Regions from separate parts of the Homo sapiens genome. Here region 1 is linked to region 2. The links come from fine-mapping of genetic effects on gene expression. Tissue or cell type: whole blood. Region 2 holds a variant in brackets; the other region holds the start of a gene. All regions are shown on one strand. Distances are from middle to middle. Region 1 holds the start of PRSS3 (serine protease 3). Region 2 overlaps PTENP1-AS (PTENP1 antisense RNA).

Region 1 (2,923 bases), 110 kb after region 2:
GTGTCCTCTCAACTCCACGGGCCCCACATTCGCATTTTTTCCAATTCCCTCTGGTTTCCATTTGCTTCCTCCCTCTAGCCCCCTGGCCATGTCCGATCTCAACACGAAGTTTCTGAGCTTTTCTCATTTTGTTCACCATCTCCAGAACATCTCTGCTTCTTTTACTTTTCAAAGAATTTAAACTTGAACTCTGCTCACTCCTGCCCATCACCAACCTGAGCTCAGAGTTGCTGAGAAGGGAAAGCACCCTCATAAGGAAGCTCCTCCTTTCCTTACATCATTAGACTTGATCACAGACAGCATCTCCATCTCCACACTACTCTGGCCAGGTTGTGCCTCAGTCAATTACACAACTGTGTCTTAGTAGCCTTGGTAGGGCCCAAATCAGGATATTCTCTGGGAAGATTCACTTGATACTAAGCCCAGCATAATCTCACTGCATCTAAAATAGAAAATTCTAGACCCACCCCTCCACATCTTCTTATTGATCCCAATATGTGACCCATTTACCATGTGCTAAAATCTCTACCTACTGCTGATTCTCAGATCAGATGGTAACCCAGATTTACCATGGTCCAAACTCTGACATCTGATCAGGGGCATGTCATTCTGGTTCAGGCTGTCAGCCCTGAGCAGGTGAGTCAGTTTGCATCACCCTAAGTGCAGGTTGCCAGGACAACCGTGAGGCTGCATAAAAAGAACCTATGACAGGATGCACATGAGAGAGACAAGTGGCTTCACATTGAAGAAGGGGAGGAGTGCGCCATTGGTTTTCCATCCTCCAGATGCACTGAGTAAGCTCCTACCTAACCTGTGTCCCCTCCTTCTTTGAAACACTTCCCATCCTTTTAAGCCTTGGTAGGAAGGAGAGCCATCTGGAAGCCCAGAATCCTATGGAATGCTAAGTCTCCCTTCTCCTTACCCCTTAGTGTTGGAATTCTGGATACCCAAAGTCTTGGATTTGACCTTTGTGCACAGTGACTGCAAAGAAGCATATTCATATTCACAAAAATGAGCCTTAGATAAGACTTTCCTCCTCTCGTGGGGGCTCCAGGAAACTGAAAAGCCAAGCTTGTTACCAATGCTTGCCCTTCCTTAAGTACATTATTAAATACATCCCCAATAGTTAAAAGGACTCCTAGACACCCAGGCCATTCTCCCTCCTTCTAACCCTCATCTCCTCGGCCTACGAAAGCCCAGCTGTGTGATCCGGGGATTGGTTTCCCCTGTCTTCCCCATCCCAGCATCCTTCCAGGAAATAGCCAGTCTCCCTCTCTGCTCTCAGAAGGCAAGTTTCCTTATCACCTGTGAATCACAAACCCACAGAGTGGCCAAACGTAGCCGAGCTGATGCAAGACCCTGGCAAGGGGAAAGCTGCAGGTGTGTTTGTGCTGGGAAGAACTGTGACCCTCACCTCACAGACACCTCCTCTCCTGATTCTTGGAAGGGTATAAGGACAGGCCTTCCACCACCAGTCAGGCACACTCTACCACCATGAATCCATTCCTGATCCTTGCCTTTGTGGGAGCTGCTGGCGAGTTTCATGACCTGCCTCAGGCCCCACCCACCCCCTTTCCTGGCAGACACATGCCCTGCCATTCTTGCCACCTCTCCTCTTTTGACTGCGCTCTGATATTCTATTTCCTCCATCTGACATATCTCCTTCCCATCCTCCTTGGGCTCTCTTTAAGCCTCACCTGTTTCACCTTTTCCCTCATTTCACTCCCACCACTGTCATTCATCCATATCCGAGCTGTGGTTGGAGAAGCTGGGAAGGGAGACCAGGTGGGGCTGGCCCATGAAATGAAGTGGCAGGCTTCAGGCTTGGCTCCAAGAGCACCAGTATAGCACCACTATAGCTGCTCTTAACCTCGAATGCACCTGGGGAGGTTCAAAAATTACTCATGCCAGAGATTCAACTCTAGAAGTTCTAACTTCATTTGTCTGGGGTGCAGCCTGTGTACTGGGCTTTTAAGCTTCCCAGGTGATTTTTAACGTTTCCAGGCATGCCGCCAAAGTTAAGAATTGCTCTTCTATTGGCCAATAACAAAGTCTACCTTTGTTATGCCAAAGTGAGCCTGGGGCTGCCCTCAACTCTGCCCTCACTGCACAGATCTGAGCTATGGGGGAAGCTAGTCATGGCCAGGTCTACCCAGACAGGGGGTTTTCCTAGCTTAGCCAAAGTATCCTGACAATCCAGGGCTCAAATAGCCAGGGCAAGTACACAGGTGATGAATAAAAGAGAGAAGCACTCAGTGGGTGAGACAACAACATACCAACTGCTACCCCACTGGAAGCATTTTGAGGACATTCCTTGCATCCTCAGCCTGGTGTCCCCAGGAGAGATCTGAGCCCCTGCAGGGTACCTAGCTACGTGCCCTGCAGACACAGAGACTTGGGAGCCACATCCAGTGATGCTCACCAGGGGTGGCAGCGCTCCCTCCCTTGCCTGGCCTCACTGGGCTTGTTAAGGATTTCTAATTGGCAGGAAGCAACCGCAGGCTGGGAGCACCACCCCTAACATGCTACTGACTTGCCTTCTCCCTTCCTATTTCCACTCCAGTTGCTGTCCCCTTTGACGATGATGACAAGATTGTTGGGGGCTACACCTGTGAGGAGAATTCTCTCCCCTACCAGGTGTCCCTGAATTCTGGCTCCCACTTCTGCGGTGGCTCCCTCATCAGCGAACAGTGGGTGGTATCAGCAGCTCACTGCTACAAGACGTAAGTGTGGGGCCCCTGACTGCAAAGCTCCCAGCCAGGCTGCCTGGGAGAGCTTGGCTTCAGCCCAGGGAAGTACTGAGGTTGGGTAAGACGGATGGGAGAGGTGGTGGAAAAGAAAACTTGTTGACAGCAGCTGACTCTCCAGAGCAAGGCCAATCCATGAAACAGCAAGGGTTGTGGTCATAAAAGCAGGCAGGGAT
Region 2 (2,923 bases):
AAGAACCTTTCACAGGAGGAGAGAAAAGACCTTTCCAGAATCTTTAACATAAGATTTTTTGTGTGTGTGAAGTCTGACCTGAGCAGCAACCTTGCATCAGACTTCAAAAGGCAATATTTCCTGTACCTCCTTGTGCTGTACAAGTGAGTACAGAAGTCGAGAAAATGTTCCTAAGTCTATGGCCAGTTCAAATTCCATCATTTTCTATTTCTGAGATTAAATTATATGTATTAAGATCCTTACTCTGCCCTTTCATGTTTATTGCTCCTCGGACAAGATATCCCCTCTTCAGGTCCCAAACACATTCATTGCAATGCCTTTCCTCATCCTTGTCCCAGTCCTGGCTCTCTAGCTTCTTGAGACAATAACCCATCCTAAGGTATGTGGTGACATGCATCTTCTGCCTCACTGGGATCCCTAAGTGGTATAAGCATTCACTCAATTGCTTTAGCTAGAGTCCCCAGAATATCTTCACCCTCTGCTGTCACACTCTTCTTCCACATTGGTCCATAACCACATCTTTAACATTTCTGTTTATTAAAACCTCTCAAATTCAACCACTATTTTCTATCCCAACCAATACTGCCTTAGCTCAGGCAACCACTGTCTTTCACCTGAATTCCTTCAACACTTTCCAAATATCCACCTACCTGATGTCTTACTCTCTGTTCTAACTCAGTTCATTCTCTGCAGCTGAAAACACTTCCTTTCCATTGACTTTAGGGTTATGACCAGTCTTCTTTATATCTAAATGTTAGCCTGTAAGTTCTTTTTGTAAAATAAATAAATAAATAAAAATCTTCCAAACTACAAATTCTTAAAACCCTCCATGATTTGGCCCTTGCATACCTATCCAGTCTTGTGAAATTCACCTACTCTTTACCCACTTTTTGCATACTTATGCTCTAATAATATTCATAATCCCTTAGCTCCATATGTACTTTCTTACTCACTCCTGAGCCTTTACATATGCTGTTCACAGTACTTAGAATAATCTTTCTCTCCCTATTTATCTGTACTACTAATCCTTCCCGTTTAGGCCTGAGTCTTTAACTGTGGTAAATACCCCATGGTATCCAGAGCTTCTACAATCATAGAGTATCACACACTTCATTGCTTAACTTATTATGATAGTTTTAAAAATTATTAATACAAAATATGCTCAATGAGGCCAAGACCATGTCCAAGGTTTAATTTTTGTATCTTCAACAGTATTACAGGCTCTGAATAAAGTAGGCGCTCTATAAATATTTATTGAACAAACCAGGGTTTTATCAGTTCTTGCCTCTCTAGCTAAGATATGATCTCAGCTATCTAAACATTTCTCTCTCAAAAGTATTGCTGCAATTATTTAGAGATTTTCACATTGTGGTAGACTGAAGAATAATCTCCCAAAATGATCAGATCTGAATCCTTGAAAATTATGAATATGTTCGCTTACATTGCTGAAAGGATTTTGCAGATGTGATTAAGTTAAGGATCTTGAAATGGGGAGGTTTTCCTTGGTTAGCTGAGTGGGCCCAATATCGTCACACACTTTCCTAAAATATCTTACCAAAACCACACCACCTCTGTGAAGCCCTCTCTCTTTTCCCAGACAGATATGGAGGTTTCTTTCTTTA[C/T]GTGTTTATAACAAATTAAAGAAACTTCAACTTCTATCACTATGTTATGATATTTATGGTCATGTCTGACTCTTCCTAGACTAGAATGGTTTTTGAGGGATTGGACTATATGTTCATTTACCTTTGTAAATCCAGTATGTAGGACTTGGTACAATATATTGGATACAGAATTATAAGCCCGATAGGAGCAGAAAACTTTGTTGCTCATCCTTGTATCCCAGAATCTAGTACTATGTCCGATGAGTGTAGTAAGAGTGAGGCAAGAGGATGCAAGTCAGAAAAAGGCTATGTGACAACAGAAGTAGAGATCAGAATGACAGACACTTTGAAGATGGAGGAAGGGCCCTGAGCCCAGTAGTGCAGATGGCACCTAGAAGCTGGAAAAGGCAAAGAAATGGATTCTCCCATAAAGCCTACAAAAGGAACACCACCTGCCAACACCTTGATTTTTAGCCCCAAAGACTTATTTCAGACTTTTATCCTGAACAGGACAGAAGCAAAAAAATGGAATTGATCAACATAAAAGCAGAAGTTAATAAGGTAGAAAATTTTGTAATGATAGAACTAAGAAATAAGCAAATGAGATCATTGTTTGCCAGCCAAAAGACAGAGAGGACAAATATACTAAAACAGAAGTGACAAGGGGAAGTATGATAAAGTCTATTTTTAAAAACAATATTTTGTATAATTCTCTGCAAACAACCTAAAAGCCTAAATGAAATGGCTCACATTATAAATTTAACAAAACTGACCCTAATGTGGATAAAAAGCCTAAACAAAACAATGACTACAAAAGAAATAAATAAATTTGTAATAGAATTTCCTCACAGAAAAGCGCCAGTCCCATATAGTTTCTTACAGGGATTTTTCCACACCTTTTAAAATCAGGGACTTTGAGAATACCTAAAACATTGCAAAGTATAGAAAAGTAGGGGAAATTTCTAAATTATTTTCATGACATGACCTTAATATTTATAACAAAACTCAACAAAACTGCACCTTAAAAAAAAATCTATAGACCGGCCAGGCGTGGTGGCTCCCATCTGTAATCCCAACACTTTGGGAGGCCAAGGGGGGGCGGATCATGAGGTCATGAGATCAAGACCATCCTGGCTAACACAGTGAAACCCCATCTCTACTAAAAATACAAAAAATTAGCCAGGCGTGGCAGCACGTGCCTGTAGTCCCAGCTACTCGGGAGGCTGAGGCAGGAGAATCGCTTGAACCCGGGAGGCAGAGGTTTCAGTGAGCCAAGATCGTGCCACTGCACTCAAGCCTGGGCAACAGAGCAAGACTCCAAC

The links. PIP is the estimated chance that this variant, and not a neighbour inherited with it, causes the effect.
Region 1: it holds the start of PRSS3, and the variant in region 2 is the best candidate, but not a certain one, in a credible set for the expression of PRSS3 in whole blood (TOPMed, PIP 0.67).

What each region holds. Positions count from the first base shown.
Region 1 is chr9:33,794,080-33,797,002 of GRCh38, forward strand. PRSS3 (serine protease 3) reads left to right here and starts at 1,482. Exons shown (of 5, transcript NM_002771.4): 1 at 1,482-1,534; 2 at 2,564-2,723. The coding sequence starts at 1,495. All of the region lies in intron 3 of UBE2R2-AS1 (UBE2R2 antisense RNA 1), which reads right to left. RefSeq lists an enhancer at 2,031-2,531.
Region 2 is chr9:33,682,816-33,685,738 of GRCh38, forward strand. All of the region lies in intron 3 of PTENP1-AS (PTENP1 antisense RNA), which reads left to right. Among named protein-coding and RNA genes, the nearest start is that of PTENP1-AS, 7.0 kb to the left of the region's middle. The variant C/T (reference allele first, on the strand shown) is at 1,623.